Regions from separate parts of the Homo sapiens genome. Here region 2 is linked to region 1. Evidence: fine-mapped QTL for protein levels in blood plasma. A gene starts in region 1. The other region holds a variant in brackets. All regions are shown on one strand. Distances are between the middles of the regions. Region 1 holds the start of PLXDC1 (plexin domain containing 1). Region 2 overlaps PLXDC1 (plexin domain containing 1).

Region 1 (10,524 bases):
GACAAGCTAGACACTGAACCCTGAATCTACCACCTACTAACTACAACATTGGACAAATTACACACACTCTCTAAGACTCAGTTTCCTCATCTGTGAGATGGGGCTGATAAAACATAAACTTGGTAGGTTTGACACTTTAACAAAATCATATACACAGAGCACCCAGCAAGTCGCCCTGCCTTCCCTGGGTTTCACATGAGGACTGAAACCGTCTTCTCAGGGTTAACAAGAATTACATGCCGGGTTCTGGGCAGAAGTATAGGAGTAATTAAGCATTAATCAGGCTGCACTTCGGCCCATTCCTTTTTTTTTTTTTTTTTTGAGAGGGAATCTCGATATGTCACCCAGGCTGGAGTACATTGGTGTGATCTCAGCTCCCTGCAACCTCCACCTCTCGGGTTCAAGCAATTCTCCTGCCTCACCATCCCAAGTAGCTGGGACTACAGGAGTGCGCCACCACACCCAGCTAATTTTTATATTTTTAGCAGAGATGGGGTTTCACCATGTTGGCCAGGCTAGTCTTGAGCTCCTGACCTCAAATGATGCTCCCGCCTTGGCCTCCCAAAGTGCTGGGATTATAGGCATGAGCCACCACGCCTGGCCAGCTTTTATTTAAGAATTGTTTAAGGCCAGGTGCAGTGGCTCATGCCTATAATCCCAACACTTTGGGAGGGTGAGGTGGTGGGATCACTTGAGTCCAGGAGTTCGAGACCAGACTGGACAACATAGCAAGACCCCATCTCTACTAAAATTTTTTTTAAAGTCTGGACATGGTGGCTCATGCCTGTAGTCCCAGCACTTTGGAAGGCCAAGACAGGAGGATTACCTGAGCCCAGGAGTTGGAGATCAGCCTGGGCAACATGGCAAGACCTTGTCTTTTTTATAATAAAAAAAGGTATTATAAAATTTAATTTATTATTAATAATAAATTTTAAAAAATTAGCCAGATGTGGTGGTGCATGCCTGCAGTCCCAGCTACTCAGGAAGCAGAGGCAGGAGGATCACTTGAGCCCAGGAAGTTGAGGCAGCAGTGAGCTATGATCACACCACTGCACTCCAGCCTGAACAACAGAGTGAGACCCTGTCTCAAAAAAGAAAAAAAAAAAAGAAGGATTAAGATGGTTTTCGGATCCTGAATTCCAGCAGAAGGGCCAATTCGAAGACCCTCAGACAGGAAATGATTTTTTTTTTTTTTTTTTTTTTTTTGAGACGGAGTCTCGCTCTGTCACCCAGGCTGGAGTGTAGTGGCACGATCTCGGCTCACTGCAACCTCTGCCTCCCGGATTCAAGCAATTCTCCTGCCTCAGCCTCCCAAGTAGCTGGGATTACAGGCATGTACCACCACGCCCAGCTAATTTTCTTGTGTTTTTAGTAGAGACAGGGTTTCACCATATTGGGCAGGCTGGTCTCGAACTCCTGACCTTGTGATCCACCCACCTCGACCTCCCAAAGTGCTGGGATTACAGGCGCGGGCCACCGCGCCCAGCCGAGGAACTGATTTAACATGAGAATGCAGTTTCTTTATTTCTTCATGCACTCTTCAACCAATTAACAATTCCCACACGTTGGCCACCCCACCCCAAACCCCATAAAACCTCTAGCCCCAAATGCTGCCCCACGATGATGAAACTCTTTCTCTGCTGCCCCCTCGGTGTTGGTGTGTCAACTTGCTGCACCTTGGGCAACACACCAGTTAGGGTCACAGGACCAGCTTTCAGAGGGGCCAGGGAAGGCTCCAAACCCTAAACTGAAATCCTGCCTCCAAGTTACAAAGCCCCTAACCATACCCTCTCCCTTTCCTCTGGCAGGTAGGGACCCACTGAGGACCCTCACCTGGGGAGAGGGAAGGAGTCAAAGGAAGTGCAGGGAGGGACCACCAGGTAGCAGAAGGGAAGAGGGAGGGAGGGAAGGGGAGGGGAGGGGAAGGGAGGGACAGCAAGAAGAGTTCAGCTCTCTATGTGTGTCCCTTGAGGGGAGAGTCTGGGATCTGTGCCACCTCTGATATACTCACTCAGTCACTCACTCATTCATTCAATACACTTTTATTGAGTCGCAGGCACTGTGCTGGGTGCTGGGGGGACACAAGCCCTGTACCCAGGAAGAGTCTAGTTTTCTTCATGGAGACATACAAAATGAATCATTTGGTAAGGGCTATGAAGAAAATCAGACAGAGGAAAGGGTTGGGGTTGTTGCTACTCTACACAGAGCCATGAGGTGGGGCTCTCTGAGGAGGGTCCCCTTGAGCTGATTAAGACCTGAATGAGAAGAAGCCAGTTAGTTATCTGTCGATCGGAGGGGACGGCAGCTGGAGTGGGTTAAGGGGTGAATCTGGGGAGAGCTAGAGAAGATGGTGGGATGAGGGAGGGGCTGCCTGACCTCCATAAGTTCGCATTTTAGTCTCAGGTTGTTGGAGCCCTAGAGACAATCTGGTCCAACCTCCTTCCCTCCTTTTTTTAAAAAAAGATGGGACCTCGTTATGCTGCCCTCACTATGTGGCATGATCATAGCTCACTGCAGCCTCCAGTTCCTGGGCTCAAACGATCCTCCTGCCTCAGCCTTCCGAGTACCTGGGACTACAGGCGCACACCGCCATGCCCAGCTAATTTTTTATTTTAATTTTAATTTTTTTTTTTGACAGAGTCTTACTCTGTTGCCCAGGCTGGAGTGCAGTGGTGCGATCTCAGCTCACTATAACCTCTGCCTCTCGGGTTCAAGCTATTCTCCTGCCTCAGCTTCCTGAGTAACTGAGATTACAGGCATGCACCACCACGCCTGGCTAATTTTTACTAATATACTAATATTAATAATATTAATAACAATACTAAATATACTAATTTTTGTATATTTAGTAGAGACGGGGTTTCACCATGTTAGCCAGGCTGGTCTCAAACTCCTGACCTCAGGTGATCCGCCGGCCTCGGCCTCCCAGAGTGCTGGGATTACAGGCATGAGCCACCCTGCCTGGCCTAAATCATTTATAGACATGGGGTCTCACTATTTTGCCCAGGCTGGTCTCAAACTCCTGGTCTAAAGCTATCCTCCCACCTCAGCCTCCCAAAGTGTTAGGATCACAAGCATGAGCCACCGTGACTGGTGCAAGCCCCCATTTTATAGACGGGGAAACCTTCCTCAGAGAAAGGAGGAAGCTGTCAGGGTCACCAGTAGTTGGTATTGAGCCTGGCCTCCTGCAGGACTCCCAGGCCAGGATGCCAACTCTCGCTGCCTCTTCTTTATCTGTCATATGCACCTCTGGTTCCATCTGACCAGACTGTCAGTTCCCTGGGCCCCTGCTCTGCACCCCAAGGCCATTTTCCTGTCTGTCATCCTGGTCTCCCCTGCTGTCTGACTCTGTCTTTGGGCCACTCATCTCTCTGCTGCTGCTGTTCTAATGATAGATGAGGTTTCAAGGCTCTACCAAACAAGCCTGTCCATCAGGAGCGAGGGGAGATCTCAGCTACTTCCCAAGGCCCCCCACCAGCCCCACAAACCCAGAGCCTTGGGGAAGGATGCTAGCATCTCTTCAGGTCCTGCTCCCAGCTGCCCTTCCACTGGTCACAACAACTCCGCCATCAATCAGGTCAGGCTGCCCCTCCTTAGCAACTCTCCCCCAGAACGTCCTTCTCCTACATCTGGCCTCCCCAGACACCCGCTTCCTCCTCATAGGTCCTCCTGCCTGTGAAATCCCACCTGGCCTGTGAAAAGGGCACCGGACTGGGAGTCAACAGCTGCCGCCTCTGGCTTCTTACAGATTCCTTAAGTCTAACCTCTATCCCTCCTGCTGCAGAAAAAGTGCATTTCTCCTGGCTCAATCTCTGTCAAAGCCAAGAAGACAGGATAGCCTCTACTTAGAGAAGTGATTCAAGTCTCTGCCTGCCCCACTCTTCCTGGTCTCCTCAACCGTCTACTACCCCAACCCTACTCTGAAGGGGCCGCCCTCAGCCAGGCCCGGGTCTGGCCACTATCTCCCAGCCCATCCTTGTTACCTCCCAATTCCCCCTTCCCCAGCCCTCTCCGTGGTTCACACAATCCAGCCAAAGGTTCAGATCCTCCCCTCATAAACTCTGTTACACCCAGAGTTCAGAAGATCACACCAGGTTGAGGATTCAAAGGAGCCCAGAAATTATTCATAACATATCCAACTCTCTCCTGTTTACCTTGATTTTTTTAAAGTATCAGTTACCCATAAAGACCCTAACAAATATGAAAAGGAAAGGCAATTATAAAAGATCCTTCATTATTCCACGCACAAGAGTCAAAGATTTTGCCAACAGCCTCACTTTATAAATGCAAAAATAGGTCCAGAGAGAGAAAGTAACTTGTCTAAAGTCACACAGCAAGTGAGATGGCGGGACTAGAAGCCACGTCTCTGGCCACCCTCTGTGTGGTCTCCCTGAAAATTGGTGGTTCTCACCAGCAGCTTCTCGGTTCGTCAGCTCCACTGCCCTCTGCCCATACTTCCCACTGTCAGCCTCCTTCCCCTCCCACCCCCAACATACTCTTCTTCTCAATAGGGACCCAGGTCTGTCTCAGCTACATGCTGGGACCATTAAAGTCAAGAACATTGCCACTGACACTGTGCCTGGTGCCAGCACACTCCTGAGACACAGCAGGTCAACCACAGCACTCACCTCAACAGCGCCTCCCTCACCCCACCTGAGGGGCACCCATGCCAATGATGCACAGGTATCTATCTTCTTAATCATCTCTGCTGAGGGGCCAGGCTGCAAATTACCCATCTCCCCAACCCCAGAGAAAGTCTAGGTGCTTAGGGGAGAACAGAGACTATGAAAATTATACCATGAGGGATTCCAGGTAGATCTCAGAAAGGACTTCCAGGTGGGAGAGATGAGTTTGGAGAACTGGTAGGGGGGAAGAGGAGTGTGCAGAATGGGACGCCTCCCTCCACCCCCTACCCCAGTGCCCCATCTAGAGCCAGAGTAGCTGAAAGCCAAAGGCTGCCAGGGCAAATGGGAGCAGGTGTGAGGAGGGGGACTCTTGAGGCTGGGGGTGCAGAAGCAGCAAGTTGCTTCTTCCTGGGCCCACTGCCTCTCTACTGACACCAAATAGGCAAGGGAAGGTGACCGAATGGCTGCTGCCTTCCCAGGCAGAGACGCTGTGTCCCCACCATCCCCCTGGCTGCTCCCACCTATCCCTAGCCTGGATCAGCTTTGGGGTCGGGGGTGTGGCAGAGAAGAGGAAAAGAAGGCATGGCTGGGGCAGGGGCCTCCCCAGGCTCCCATCTCATCAGAATTCAGCCTTGCCTGGGGTGATCAGGGGTCCTGATGACTCTCCCGCTGTCCCCTTTCAGAGCCCATGGCCACATAGAGCCCCCTCTCCTAAGGTCCCTCCAGTATCCTTCCAGGAGAGAAGGAGAGGTCCGGGCATCGGTGTCTCCACCGTCACTCACACACCCTATGTGTTTGGGAAAGTGGGGTCCCTATCCACCTGCCCACAGCCCACAGCTCTCCTGGCCTCCTGCGGACAATGCCCCCCTCGCGGACATCGCCAGGCCGTCCACACCTGCCCATGCCCACACCTGACTGCCCGTCCCTCCCCGCCCCCGGCCCACCCGGGCCGGCTCCCGCCAGTCCTACCTGCTCCGGGCTGGGGGCTCAGCGCCCGGGCAGCCTCCCTGAGCACCAGCACCAGGAGCCAGAGCTCGCCTCGCATGGTGGGTGCCCGGACCTGCCCCCGGCCTGCTTGCTGCCCCGGTCCTGACGAGGGAGGGGGCCCTGGCTCAGGCTGCGGCCGCGCGGTCCCCGGGGCTGGCGGAGGGGCGGGCGGCGAGGAGACGGCGGAGCGCGGGGCCGGGCGAGCCGGCAGGAGCGGCGAGAGCGCGAGCGGAGCTGGAGGCTGCGGCCTCCGGGAGCAGGCGGGGAGCTGGGGGGGCCGCTGGGTCGGTGGGGGTGGGGGGGAGCTGGGGCAGGGGGCGGGGCGGGGGGCGCGGCGTCGTTGGGGGCTCTCCCGGCGCCTGCCCTCAGCCCTAACGGAGCGCTCCCCTAGAGCTCTGCAGCCGCTCCCAAGGCAAGGGGTGCAGAGTAGGGGACAGGGCGGGAGCCCCTCGGGCTGAGAGAACCCCTAGAAGCATCAGCCGCCCCGCGCTCCTCACTGAGCTCCTGGCTCCCTTTCCCTCCTCCGTTCCGCCGGGAAAGCTGCAGAGAGAAGGCCCGAGGACTGGACCCCTGGAAGGGACAGGCGCCCCATCCCTGGGTCACGGGCCCCTGACTGTTCCCCGCCCCCAGCTCCTCCAAGCTCTGCGACTTCCTGAGCTGTTCTTCGGAATTCTGTGCGTCTCTGATGCTTTGTCCTCCAGCCCCCACCCCCAGAAATCTCCCCCTGCAGCAAAGACCCCCAGCTTTTCTCCCCAAGAGGGGCCTGAATCCCACCCCCCTTCCATGACTCCACCTTATCCCTCCACCCCCCATTTCCAGCACCGATTTGCCCCCCAAGCCTAGCAGACGTGAGGGTGGAGGGGGCCTGGCTACCCCTTACTCTGCAACAGTCTGGACCCCTCCCCACGAGTAGGTAACCCAGGCCTCCTGCCTCTCTGGGGCCTCCAGGCCTACTCAGGGCCAGACCCAATCAATCTTCAGAGCCAGCCCCAGACGAGGAAATGGCTCACCCCACCTGTCACCACCTTCTGACAGGCTCTGGGGATAGATAATCTTTTTATTTTTTCTTCCAGGACAGAATAAAAATACCCGCAATGTAGGATATTTAATAGACGGCAAGGAATCAGGTCAGGACACGAAGATGCCTCTTCCCTCCCCTGACCTACTTCGTTCTTGTGACGGCAAGGAGCTGGGGCGCTGGAGAGTGGGAGACGGGGTGAGGGGGCATCCTGGCTTCTAGTGGGCTGGGGCCTAGGGACTAGAAAACCGCGGAGAGGAAGGGTGCGAACGCTGAGCGCCATTGGAGAAATTTTCCAGGAGGAGGGATATGGGCGGGGACAGGAGAAGGTACACTGTGGGCTGGAAGAGACGGATTCCGTGGCACTGAGGTTAAAAAAAAAAAAAAGAAAAGAAAAGAAAAAAAAACACCTAAGAAAGGAAACAACTAAAGGCTCTCTAATCTCTTAGAACGCCGGTTCCTCCTTCCGCCGGGCCCAGAGTCCCAGAGACTACCTCCTCCAGCCCTAAACCCAATGTCCCCTTACCGTGGAACAAGGCAAGGCCGGTCTGTAAATTCTTCTTGATGTCTAATTTAAATCCCAACTTGGCGGACTCTCAAACAGAATCAGATAGGCAGCTACCTCCAGCTGCAGCTACTTGCTGCCCTCAAGTGGCCACGTGACGAGCCACAACCCTCTTGTCCTGCGGGTTTCCTCTTTCCCCAGCCTGCCCACCCCCTGTCTCCGACCTCCTGCCTTCCTCGAGGTCAAGGTGAGAAGTCTCGGGACGGATTCCAGCTCCAGCCCCGGCGTCTTTGCACATTCCTCCATCTGGGGTACCTCGTGGTCTGTCTTACAAGAAGAGCTCAGGCTGAAACATAAACTTGTAAATAGTAGAAGCAAATGTGTAAATTTTAACGTAAGCCTCTAGAACTTGAGATCGTAATCACCTGCAGGGTGTGTGTGTGTGTGTGTGTGTGTGTGTGTGTGTGTGTGTGTGTGTATTTTGTTTGTTTTTTGAGACAGGTTCTCGCACGTTGCCTAGGCTGGAGTGCAGTGCTGCGATCATAGCTCACTGCAGCTTCCAACTCCTGGACTCAAGCGATGGGGAGCGTATATGAAAACACAGATTTCTGGACTCCACCCTCAAGTTTCTAATTCATTAGGTCTGGGATGAGGCCCGAGCGTACCCAGGTAATGCTGCTGGTCCCAGGACCACATTTTGAGAGCCACTGCTGTTGAATCCCCAGTTCCTTTCAGTCCCTCACTGCTCCTCGTCTGCCAGTAGGAGTAAAAGCAAACAGCTTAGGAAAAATCGACACCCAGGACAAAAACAGTATCTCGAAAAGGCCAAAGAGGGGGCACCCGGATTTGAACCGGGGACCTCTTGATCTGCAGTCAAATGCTCTACCACTGAGCTATACCCCCTCTGCCGGCAAACCGACCGCACGTAGTCGTTTAGTGGTATTGCTGCGCAGGCGCTGTGTGGCGTTCCCGAAGGGAAGTGGAAGTGGGGTAAGACGTTTACAAGAGATGGAAAAAATACAACTCCCAGAAGAATTACTCACTTGGAAGCAGGGGTTGTTCCCTGAAGCTCTGAGCTGAAGATCCCCACTGGCAGTATAAGAAAATATATTCCTGGGGTGTGGAAGGAGAAGTCTCTCGAAATATTTCACTTCGGGGGCGTCCCACTCTCCTGCCCTGCAGAAGACCCCTTGCCACGTCTCGGAGCTTCTTTCTCCCTCCCACATGCTCACGCGGCTTCTCCCGACCTGTCTTCCCCAGCCCAGCCCTTAGAAACTCAGCCTCCTTCCCGCCAAGAAAGAGCCAGGCTGACCTGGGGGTGCGCTCGCCTCCGCCCTGCCATTGCGAGGTTGAGCCACCCGTACCGTGTTCCAAGGGTCAGCCCGGAGCTCCTCGCCCTCACTCGCATTGCATTCTACCCTGGGTACACACACAGGCTGAGCCACTGGCAGGGGCCAGGACTCCATCCTCACTCGCCTGCGAAAGCAAAAAGGGTGGCAGGGCTCGAGACTCCCTCCCATTCCATCTGTGCGGGAACTCTTTAGAGGACCTCCGGAGACCAACAAAACGAGGTAACTCCGGAGCACAGAGGGGGCACCCGGATTTGAACCGGGGACCTCTTGATCTGCAGTCAAATGCTCTACCACTGAGCTATACCCCCGCCACGCCACTACGTTGTCATTAGAGTTAATTTCTATGGAATAGGGGTGTGGTCTTCATTTTCCCTTAAAGTTTTAATCTGAGGGTTGCGTCGGGATACCTACTGAAAAAAACACAAAATACAATGGGAATGGCTAGAACTCCTGAGTTCTTCCTTCATAGCCACGCTTTCGGAAAACCAACTAGATTAAGGAATCTTGGGCCGAGAGCGGTGGCTCACGCCTGTAATCCCAGCACTTTGGGAGGCCGAGGCGGGTGGATCACAAGGTCAGGACATCGAGACCTCCTGGCTAACACAGTGAAACCCCGTCTCTACTAAAAATACAAAAATTAGCCGGGTGTGGTGGCGGGCGCCTGTAGTCCCAGCTACTCGGGAGGCTGAGGCAGGAGAATGGCGTGAACCCTGGAGGCGGAGCTTGCAGTGAGCCGAGATCGCGCCACTGCACTCCAGCCTGGGCAACAGAGCGAGACTCTGTCTCAAAAAAAAAGGAATATTGGGTCCTCTATATCCGTGCCTAGACTCTCCCCCAAATGTCCACTGACTGGCTTGAGAAAAGGACTGTCCCCAGGACCGCCCCAGGTCCAGGGATGTACAGATGAACAGACTGGATCTCCATCTTGTCTCCTGGGCTTTTCCAACCCCAGGGTCGCTCCTCCCCTTCTCTCAAACCAAAAGCCAGTTTGAGGAACAGACAGAGGAGAAGGCTGAAATAAGAGGTAAGCATTTTTCAATAGCATTTACTACAGCCTTATAAAAATCCTAATACAGTATTTTTTTTAAAATCCTGGCCGGGCGCGGTGGCTCGCGCCTGTAATCCCAGCACTTTGGGAGGCCGAGGCGGGCGGATCACGAGGTCAGGAGATCGAGACCATCCTGGCCAACATGGTGAAACCCCATCTCTACTAAAAATACAAAAAAATTAGCAGGGCGTGGTGGTGCGCGCTTATAGTCCCAGCTACTCGAGAGGCTGGGGCAGGACAATCGCTTGAACCCGGGAAGCGGAGGTTGCAGTGAGCCGAGATCGCGCCACTACTGCTCTCCAGCCTGGGCGGTAGAGCGAGACTCCAACAATAACAACAACAACAAAAATCATTACACAAAGACAAACAAGCAGCCCCTTTAGGAATCTGGTATATTTGGGAGGAGTGGGATTCAAATTGGAAGGACACTAGAAGTAAAGGGGATGCTGTGGGGTGGCTTAAAGTCCAAGAGCTGTGGTCAGAGTCAGCATCTCAGAGGGAATGGGAAGACGAGGAGAAGTGGAATCCCTGCAGTGCAAAGGGCTGTCCCTATCTGGGACGTCCTGTCCTCCTCCATTTCCCCTTCCAGTTTTTGCCTCTGCCCTCCTCCCCTTGAGCCCACCTTCTTCACCTTGCTAGAATCTCCTTTGCCCAAAGGGAATGGGACAAAAATGGCTGAGGGGCTAAAAAGCCTGAGGGTGGAAGGAGGTTTGAGGAAATGAAGAGCAATTCCAGGGTTTTTTGTTTTTGTTTTTGTTTTTTTTTGAGTCGGAGTCTCTCTCTGTCGCCCAGGCTGGAGTACAGTGACCCGATCTCAACTCACTGCAACCTCCGCCTCCCAGGTTCAAAGGATTCTCCTGTCTCAGCCTCCCGAGTAGCTAGGATTACAGACGCCCGCCACCACGTCCGGCTAATTTTTGTATTTTGCTTTGTTTTGTTTGAGACGGTGTCTCGCTCTGTCACCCAAGCTGGAGTGCAATGGCACAATC
Region 2 (10,574 bases), 12 kb before region 1:
CCTGGCCTCAAGCAATCCTCCCACCTCAGCATCCCGAAGTGCTGGGATTACAGGCGTGAGCCACTGTGACTGGCTGATACACATAATTTGATGCAGGAGGTGATAAGTAATACGGAGAAAAATAGGCCAGGTGCAGTGGCTCACGCCTGTAATCCCAGCACTTTGGGAGGTCAAGGTGGGTGGATCACGAGGTCAGGAGATCAAGACCATCCTGGCTAACACGGTGAAACCCCATCTCTACTAAAAATACAAAATAGCCGGGCGTGGTGGCAGGCGCCTGTAGTCCCAGCTACTTGGGAGGCTGAGGCAGGAGAATGGTGTGAACCTGGGAGGCGGAGCTTGCGGTGAACCGAGATCGTGCCACTGCACTACAGCCTGGGCGACAGAGCAAGACTCCGTCTCAAAAAAAAAAAGAAAAGAAAAGAAAAAAAAATAAAGTCTATTCCCTGTGCCCCAGTCACAGCCCTGCAGCTGCTGGAAAACCACCACATTGGCGGGGTGTGGTGGCTCACGTCTGTAATCCTAGCACTTTGGGAGGCCGAAGCGGGTGGATTGCCTGAGCTCAGGAGTTCAAGACCAGCCTGGGCAACACAGTGAAAGCCCGTCTCTACTGAAATACAAAAAATTAGCCGGGCTTGGTAGCATGTGCCTGTAGTCCCAGCTATTCAGGAGGCTGAAGCACGAGAATTGCTAGAACCCGGGAGGCAGAGGTTGCAGTGAGCTAAGATCATGCCATCACACTCCAGCCTAGGCCACAGAGCAAGACTTTGTCTCTAAAAAAAAAAAAAGAAAAAGAAAAAACAAAGAAAAGAAAAGAAAGAAAGAAAACAACCACATCTAGAACCTTCTCTGTACCAGGCTAAATACCCCAAACGCCTTCTACCATTCCTCCAGGGACAAGAGTGCAAGCCTCTTCACCACCCCAGCTGCCCTCCCCTGGACTCTGCTTGTGTCTGGGAAACCACTTGAAAGGGGAGCACAAGCCCCTCAATGGTAGTCAGGCCCAAGAAATAGCCCGCAGGACCCCCAGAGCCCCAGCCCCAGTCCCCAGGTTTCCATCATGCAGCTGGCTTTCCCACCTCCAGCCTTGGCAGCCACTTTATGCGCCTGACTCATCCTAGCCCACAAGAAGTGGGGATCCCCAAATCTTTTCCTCGTGAGCTGCTGCTAAACCACATCTCTCCCAACTCATTCTAAACTTAAATGCCAGGATTTATATTTATCCCAGTAGTTTCATCTGTTCCGAGGCAGATGTCATTCCAGCCTGCCCATGAGGCCTTCGGGTTCCTGACCTGACATCTGCACTCTCCAGATAAGTTATCCCTTAAAGCCTGGTCCTCCTGTCTTTAGGCAGAGCCGGGGACAAGCCCTATGGCTGTCAGAGGGACCTCCTTCCAGGTGGCCTTGCTCCTGTGTGGACCCTCGATGTGTAGCTGCAGAGGGGATCACAAAGCCCCTGAGATGGTGGAAGCCTCATGTTCTGACAATCGAGCGGGTCACCAATTATAAAATTGGTTTGAAATCTTATAGATCGGAAGTTCCTGGCCAGGCATGGTGGCTCCCGCCTGTAATCCCAGCACTTTGGGAGGCTGAGGCGGGTAGATCACCTGAGGTCAGGATTCTGAGACCAGCCTGGCCAACATGGTGAAACCCCATCTCTACTAAAAATACAAAAATTAGCTGGGCGTGGTGGCGCATGCCTGTAATCCCAGCTACTTGGGAGGCTGAGGCAGGAGAAACACTTGAACCTCGGAGCCAGAGGCTTCAGTAAACCGAGAGATTACACCACTCATTCCAGCCTGGGCAACTGAGCAACACTCCGTCTAAAAAAAAAAAAAAAAAAAAGTTCCCACACCTACATGACCATCAGAATCACATTTTTAAATCTCTGCAACTTCGCCAGGAACACATGGGGAACTTGAAACAACAACAACAACAACAAATTCCCAAAATCCATTGCCCCAGTGTTTCTGAACCAGTCCATCCAGGGTGGAGCCTGAGAATTTGTGGTGTTTTTTAAGCTCTGGCGTTATTGAATCCATACTGGCTCTTAATGAACCCCACTGTCCTTTCTGAACACCCACGAACAATTGCTTCCAGAAATCTAAGTCTCCATGGCTCTTTTCTGAAAGGTCCTCTTTGTGCAGACTGGGACATAATCCTTCTGACCTGTGTGTCTGGTCCTGAGCAGGTTATCAGTTATTCAACCAATGGCCCAATAAAGCTGTGGGGTCAGGGATGAACTGCCAGGTGTCTCCTTAATCAGGGGCCTCTCCTACTCTGTCCTTCCACTCCACCATCTCACCATGGCAGTCCTGCTCCTTGCTCTGCAGGATCAAGAAGACAGGGCAGATTGGGAAGGGAGTGATGCCATGTCCCCTGAAGTTCCACCTCAAACTAGGAGCCCAAACTAGGGTGAGGTAAGGAGGCACCTACCTGGGGTACAACATCTAAGATGGCACCAAAACTCAGGAATCAAGATAGAGAATACTTCAATGCAATATTTTAAAAAATCAAAATGAATACAAAAAAATAATATTTTGATGAACAGAATATCAAAAGTTTATTATGTTTTTTATAGAGGCAAGTTCTCGTTATGTTGCCCAGGCTGGTCTCCAACTCCTGGCCTCAAGGGATCCTCCCACCTCGAGCCTCCCAAAGTGCTGGGATTACAGGCGTGAGCCACCGTGCCCGGCCCAAAGTTTTAAAGAAATACAGGTTTAGTCATGGTTCCAAACCATTTCAGAGCCTGAGATACAAGGAAAAAAACAGTAACAGAAACAATGCAGAGAGCAGAGGGGAAAAAAATCTCAAAATTGTTCTAATATCCTCAGAGAGAGAAGATATTACATCCACAAAAAAAGAACAGGATGCTTTTTTGTTAAAGAAAAATAAATCTGAAAATAAAAAAGAGCTCTTAGAAATTAACAATACGATAGTAGAGAAAAAAATCAGTGACATTATGAAAATAAGATTGAGAAAATCCTCCAGAAAGAAGAACAACAAGCACACTAACAAATAAACAACAAAAAATGCAAAAGAGACGCACAGCAGAAGAGAGAAGAAAAAATTGAAGGATCACTTCCAGAAATGGACATCTAACCATGAGGAATTGTAGAAAGGAGAAATCTGAAAGAAATAAAGCAAAAACGCTTTCCAGAACTGACAAATGTAAGTCTCTTGATTGAAACAGTCCCCCAACGTCCAGCATGGCAAACAAAAACAGCCAGAGAAGGTCATGTCACTGCAATTTCAGAATGCTGGAGTTACAGGGAGTACCCTGAGAGCTTCCAGAAGTCAGGGGAAAACCGGCATACACAAAGGTCAAAAATAAGAATCACACCAAGCCTCTAACAGTGAATCAGAAGCCAGAAGACAATGGAGAGATGCCTTCAAACTTGTGAAAGAAAACTATTTTCAAGGCCTTGAGCGGTGGCTTACACTTGTAATCCCAGCACTTTGGGAGGCAGAGGCTAGCAAATCACTTGAAGTCAGGAGTTTGAGACCAGCCTGGCCAACATGGTGAAACCCCATCTCTACTAAAAATACAAAAAATTAGCTGGGCATAGTGGCACACACCTGTAATCCCAGTTACTCAGGAGGCTGAGGTAGAAGAATCGCTTGAACCCAGGAGGAGGAGGAGGTTGCAATGAGCCAAGATTGTGCCACTGCACTCCAGCCTTGGCGACAGAGCGAGACTCCATCTCAAAAAAAAGAAAAAGTAAATTATTTTCAATCTAGAATTCTATATTCAGCCAAACCACTAGTCAAATGAAAGGACAGAATAAAGATATCTTCAGACATGCACGTTCTCAAGGGAATTTTTCCCTCTGTGCAACCTTTCCCAGGAAGCTAAACAAACAAAAGGATGAAGCAGGAAAGAGAAGACACAGGGTCAAGGGAACAGGGGATCCAACACAGGAGGGAGACAAAGGGGTTCCCAGGACGAACAGAAAGGGAGGCCCCAGGATGGCACCCGTGGTACCAGCAGGCGAGTGGCTGGGCGGGATTGGAGTGCAGGACAGGAGAGAAGTTTCTCGGGGGGATAAAGGAACTGACAGGTTTGACCACCCTGAATTATCTTATTTTCTTTCTTTTATATTTTTTCGGAGACAGAGTCTTCTTCTTTTTCCCAGGCTGGTGAGGTCACAGCTCAGCACAGCCTTGACCGCCCAGGCTCAAGCAATCCTCCAGCCTTAGCCTCCCAAGTAGCTGGGACTACAGGGGCAAACCACCACATCCAGATAATTTTTGTTTTAATTTTTTAGAGACGTGGGTCTCACTATGTTGCTTAGGCTATTCTGGAACTCCTGAGCTCAAGCGATCCACCCGTCTGGGCCTCCCAAAGTGCTAGGATTACAGGTGTGGGCCACCATGCCCAGCCCACACTGGAATTACATTTGAGGCTAGGGGACGTGTAGGAAAATGTAGCTACGGTAGGCACAGAAAACTAAGTAAGCAAGGGCAGGAGAGGGGGCCAGGATCCAGGAAGAGCCAAAATCATACAAGAAAAGAAACAATGTTATGACCCTGCCTGGATTAGAAGTGAACACTATGTACATGATCGTCACAATCCACAACCGAGCACACGGATTGAACAGGAAGATTGGGCGGCAGGGTGAAAGGTTGCTCAGCGGGAGTATACAAAAGCCAAATCTCCCTGAGCCGCAGCAGGCCATGAATAGGTACGGCCTAAAACCAGTGCACAGAGAGGTAGCAGTACAGTATAAGCAAATCCCTTGGAAATATGGAAGTAAACTCCAGAGGAAACAGCCCAGACAGAGCCTTCTGAGAAAGGGAAGGGGGCAGGCCCCAGGGGAGAGGAGGGGCAGGACTGCTGTTTTGTTTTATGATTTTAGCACTATTTAACCTTTTTTTTTTTTAACTGTCAGCACATACTAATTTAAGAAAATAGTTATTAAAATATAAAATAAATCTATACTGAGAAGAAGGTCCTCTTGTTGCTTCTTGCGTCCTAAGAATCCACCCTCATCACTCCCAGCCGCAGGCACCTACACACACAGCCACAGGCACACTCACACTTACACATGCTCATCACAGACACCCACAAACAGCCCACAGTGACAGACAGGTACACATACATAATATACAAAATCATCTGACACAGGTGCGAACCCAGCGTCCATGACACACACACCCATTCCCAGAAACGCACAATTATATTAATAGATTCACCCCCAGACACACCGAGGCTTCCAAGAGCCTCCCGGAAACCCTGAGAGAAGAGCACTCCCTCCAGGCCTCTCCTCCCTGTGCCAGCACCCCAGAACTGCCCCAGGCCAAGGAGGTTGTCTCCAGGAGCTGCACCCTAATTGCTTTCTCTACTCAGCCCCCTGCTGAGTGCCCAGCCCTTAGGCTAAGCAGCCATTAATCCTCTTGCGCCCCAGTCTGTAGATGGGGCAGAAATGGGGTGGGGAAGGGCCCCATCTGGCAGCTGAGATGTGACTCATAAGGCCACTGTCAGCTTTTTCTTCCCTAAGTCATGGGAGAGTCCAGTTTCAGGAATGCTGTGGTCAGGCTGTGCATCCTGATACAATCCATTTGATGTCTCTGGGTCCAGGAGGGAGTAGGCAGCCTATGAAACGCTGAGATGCTGTGATTTTATGACCCAGTCTGGGCCCTGCTTCCATCCCCTCCCCGGGGATTCTTCTCTCCACCCTGTCCTCCGGGGCCAACCCCAAATGATATGTGATTTGCATGTAGGACAAGCACACCTGGGGCAGCTGGTGAGACCTCCCCCACCCCCACTTCGCTCCCCCTCCATGTTCCTCCAGCACTCACCACCACCCTGGTCCTGTTATCTGGCAGCGTGTCCATGGCCAGGGTGCCCCCACCCAGGTCCTGGCTCAGCTGGGTCCTGTCCGGCTCTGACACATGCCCAGGGCTCTCTCGGGCTCTC[C/T]GGTTCCAGCCCCGCACGGTCCCTTTGGCAGCCCATCCAGAGCCTGGGCCCTCATCGTGACCTGGGAGAAGGGGACAGAAACCTGAGTGCCAGCAGTCCGGAATGAAGATCAGGAGGGGAATCCAGCCCAGTTATTCTGCAAGGGCCCCAACACCATGCCACTGTAGAATTTGCAGACACTTGACTGACTACCAGGACAGGAGACACCCAATGTGTACTGAGAGTCACGTGCCCAGCTCCAGGCCAAGCACTTCGCACATATCCTTTTAATCCTCATGCCAGCTCTCCGCAGTAGTTAGGATGTTCTCCATTTTGCAAACAAGAATCAGAGGCTCAGAGGTTAAAAGTCACGCAGTGGGTTAGGCATGCAGGTAAGTTTCAAACCCAAGCTGATCTGCCTCCAAAGGGTGATTATTCTCAACCTCAGCTATACACTGGAGTCACCTGGACAGCTTCAAAAGTTCCTGATGTCTGGGTCCCACCCTAGAGATCTCTTGTAACTGGTCTATGGTGTAGCCTGGGCATTCAATTTCTTTTTCTTTTTCTTTTTTTGAAATGGAGTCTCGCTCTGTCACCCAGGCTGGAGTGCAGTGGCCCGAGCTCCGCTCCCTGCAAGCTCCGCCTCCAGGGTTCACGCCATTCTCCTGCCTCAGCCTCCCGAGTAGCTGGGACTACAGGCGCCCGCTACCGCGCCCAGCTAATTTTTTGTATTTTTAATAGAGACGAGGTTTCACCGTGTTAGCCAGGATGGTCTCAATCTCCTGACCTCGTGATCCACCCGTCTCGGCCTCCCAAAGTGCTGGGATTACAGGCGTGAGCCACCGCGCCTAGCCTCGATTTCTTAAAAGAGCCTCAGGGGAGATTTTGAGGAGTCTTGGACTTAACTCTGCAGGCAAGGGTGAGAACCATTGCCGTTGAGCCTTCCAAACCAGTTTCTTATTTCTCTGGCAGAAATGGCACATAATCCTATTTCCCAGTGGGGTCAGGGGACTAGAAGCCAGAGTTCTTTTCGTTCAGGGCTTCTCAACCTCGGTACTATTGACATTTGGACTGGATAATTCCTTTTCCAATTTTTTTATTGTGGCAAAATACACATAACAAAATTTGCCATCTAACCATTTCCAAGTGTACAATTCAGTAACATTAAATACATTCCTAATGTTGTATGACCATCACCACCATCTATCTGCATAACTCTTTTCACCTTGTAAAACTAAAATTCTGTACCCGTTAAATAATAACTCCCTATTCACCCCTGTTATTTTATTTTATTTAAGAGATGGGGCCTTGCTCTGTCACCCAGGCTGGGGAGTAGTGGTGCGATCATAGCTCACTGCAGCCTCCAACTGCTGGGCTCATGCGATCCTCCCACCTCAGCTTCCTAAGTAGCTGGGACTATAGGCATGCGCCACCATGCCCAGCTAATCTTTTTACTTTTTATAGAGACAGGGTCTCACTATTTTGTTCAGGGTGGTTGGTCTTGAATTCCTGGTCTCAAGCAATTTTCCTGCCTTGGCTCCCAAGGTGCTGGGATTACAGATATGAGCCACAGCGCGCAGCCTGTATCTATGATTTTGACTACTCTAAGTATCTCATATAAATGGCATCATACTATATTTGTCTTTTTGTGATTGGCTTATTTCACTTAGCATAATAAATTCAAGGTTCATTCATGTCGTAGCATATGGCAGAATTGACTTCCTTTTGAAGGCTGAATAATATTCCATTGTGTGGATATACCACATTTTGCTAACCCACTCAACTATCAATGGATGTCTGTTTTGCTTCCACGTTTTAGCTATTGTGAACAATGCTGCTACAAACATGGGTGTACAAATATCTCTTTGAGACCTGGCCTTCAATTCTTTTGGGTATATACCCAGAAGCGGAATTGCTGGATTGTATGGTAATTCTATTTCTAATTTTTTGAGGAATTGTCATACTGTTTTCCATATAAAATGTTTTCCATGTAAAATGACTGGACCATTTTACATTCCCACCAACCGTGCACATGGGTTCCAATCTCTCCACATTCTTGCCAATACTTGTTATTTTCTGTTTTTTTTATAGTAGCCATCCTAACAGGTATGAGGTTATATCTCATCGTTTTTATAAATTGGCATTTCCCTGATGATTAGTGATGCCGAACATCTTTTCATATGCTTGTGGGCCATTTGTATATCTTCTTTGGAGAAATGTCTATTTAAGTCTTTTTCCTGTTTTTAAATTGGATTGTTGGTTGGACTGGATAATTCATTGTTATGCGGGAACTGTCCAGTGCTCTGTAAGATGTTTAGCAGCCGCAGCCTTGGCCCCTGCTCACTAAATGCCAGTAGCACCACGCTCCTCCCCATCCCAAGCTGTGACAATGAAAAACGTCTCCAAACATTGCCAAATATCCCCTGGGGAATAAAATTAACCCCCCCTTGCCCCATTGAGGGAGGGGTAATTTTTTACTGTTTTACTCCTATCACTACCTAGATACTGTCTAGGATGGCAAATAGGTTTCATATCACATGCCATCTGCAATCCATTCGTGACAGCCAGAGGCACTCCAACTGAGAATGCAAAGGCTCCTCTTGTATTTAGCAGGAAGGACTGTGAAGATCAATAAGCAATGTCTGCCATGGGCACAGGATTGGAAAGTGACTACACACAGGCCATTTCGCGGCCATGCGAACCTCCATTTCTGGAGGTTGCGAAATGGCTTTAGGTTCCATGATCTCCTCTCCAGTTCCCTCTAGGTTGTTAAATGCATGCTTTTTTTGAGACAGGGTCTCACTCTAGCATGCAGGCTGGAGTGCAGTGGCACAATCACAGCTCACTGTACGCTTGACCTCTCAGGCTCAAGCAATCCTCCCACCTCAGCCTTCTGAGTAGCTGGTACTACAGTTGCATGCCACCACACCCGGCTAGTTATTATTATTTTATTTTGTATTTTTCGTAGAGGCTGGGTTTCACCATGTTGCCTACACTGGCCTTGAACTCCTGGGCTCTAGCGGTCCTTCCACCTTGGCCTCCCAAAGTGGTGGGATTATAAGCGTGAGCCACTGCACCAGGTCTGTTAAATTAGTTCTAACAAAAGGCCGGGCGTGGTGGCTCACACCTATAATCCTAGCACTTTGGGAGGCTGAGGTGGGTGGATCACCTGAGGTCAGGAATTCGAGACCAGCCTGGCCAACATGACGAAACCCCGTCTCTACTAAAAATACAAAAATTAGCCGGGCATGGTGGCGGGCACCCATAATCCCAGCTACTCGGGAGGCTGAGGCAGGAGAATTGCTTGAACCTGGGAGGCAGAGGTTGCAGTGAGCCGAGATTGCGCCACTGTACTCCAGCCTGGACAAAAAAGCGAAACTCCTTCTCCAAATAAATAAATAAACAACACAAAAACCATCCTTTTCCACTTCAAAAAGATTTATGCCCCCCAAAGCTGTGGCTTTTATTGTCATTCTAATGGTCACACCTACTATGGATGTATATATGAGAACAGACCATCAGATAGGTGGATCTGACATTCCCCACCTATGACCCTCTTCCATTTCAGGCCCACCCTGTGTCAGATACCTGTCTCAACCTCTGCCTTCCCCCAGCCCACTCCCCAGAGCTCCTGGATGTGGCTCTCCCTCTCCTAGAGCACCTACGTGTGCGACTATGTGCCTATCTCCCTGGTAGATTTGAGTTCCCCCAGGATTCTCTCCACCTTCTTCAAATTTGGCATGTCCAGCAAACAGCAGGTGCTCCATCACTGCAGAATTGAGGACGCAGTGCATAGGGTAGCTCCTGGGAGCCAGCAAGGACAGAGGTTGAGACCAGGCTTGGCCAGGCCCAGGCCTGGGGCTGAGGCCAGAACTCCGCTGTGGGGCCCTGCTTTGTCATTAGACATTGTATCCAATTAAGTCATTCTTGGCTGCTGGCGCCTACTGGACCCTTGCCGGCCCCCTCTCACTTCTCTGCCCCTAATAGCAACCAGATGCTGCTGGAGCACGTGGGGAGGAGGGCAGTCCCCAGACCCCTTCCCCAAGATGCCCACTGGCTGCCCACAGATGGACATGAGTCCAGGGCTGGGAAGGCAGCCTGCCCACTGCCCAGGCCCAAGCCAGGGCTGTCTGGTCTCTCTTGGGTGGGGCCCACAGCTGCTTCTGGAGACAGAGCTGTTTGTGCTGGGCTGGTCTGCCCAGCTCCCCAGGTCTTCCTGCAAGCAGCCCTGGGGCCTGGGCAGGAGCCAGAACAGGATAGAGCGGGTAGTGAACAAGTGGAGGGGCTCAGCGGCCCAGAGAGGAGTGTTGGGGATCTTCAGGATTCACAAACCTGGAGCCGAGACAGGAGGCGGGATGGTGGAGGCCTGCAGCCCGGGGAAGGACAGGGAGGGGGCCCAGCTGGGGGTGGCCAGGGAAGAGACACTGGGTTGACCTCCACACCCAGTCTTGCCACTCACAAGTTATGGGACCTTAGCCCCATCAGTTTTCCTCTCTAATCCTCAGCTCCCTAGTGACTCAAATGGATTTGACGATGGTGCCCACAGTACAGGCTGCCATAAGCGTCAAGTGAGAAACACAAATGAGGTTTTATAGAGAGCTCAGGCCAGGGTAAGAGGTAAAGAGTCCATGAAAGAGGGCAGGGCGAGGGATGGAGAGGGAGCTTGACCAGGACC

Evidence for each region. PIP is the chance, under the fine-mapping model, that this variant and not a neighbour inherited with it causes the effect. The UK Biobank Pharma Proteomics Project read protein levels with antibody pairs (Olink). The fine-mapping took linkage between variants from a reference panel, not from the people measured, so its PIPs are less certain.
Region 2: its variant is fine-mapped to the plasma level of the PLXDC1 protein (UK Biobank, PIP above 0.99). The variant lies in the coding sequence of PLXDC1. If it changes the protein, the assay may bind it differently, which can mimic a change of level.

The regions. Positions count from the first base shown.
Region 1 is chr17:39,145,768-39,156,291 of GRCh38, forward strand. It overlaps PLXDC1 (plexin domain containing 1), which reads right to left and starts at 5,870. Exons shown (of 14, transcript NM_020405.5): 1 at 5,595-5,870. The coding sequence starts at 5,670. TRC-GCA2-3 (tRNA-Cys (anticodon GCA) 2-3) reads right to left here and starts at 8,038; the gene lies at 7,967-8,038. It overlaps TRC-GCA2-4 (tRNA-Cys (anticodon GCA) 2-4), which reads right to left and starts at 8,795; the gene lies at 8,724-8,795. RefSeq lists enhancers at 7,374-7,523, 7,896-8,402, 8,403-8,907 and a silencer at 8,784-8,853.
Region 2 is chr17:39,133,852-39,144,425 of GRCh38, forward strand. It overlaps PLXDC1 (plexin domain containing 1), which reads right to left. Exons shown (of 14, transcript NM_020405.5): 2 at 5,803-5,981. Among named protein-coding and RNA genes, the nearest start is that of PLXDC1, 12 kb to the right of the region's middle. The variant C/T (reference allele first, on the strand shown) is at 5,921.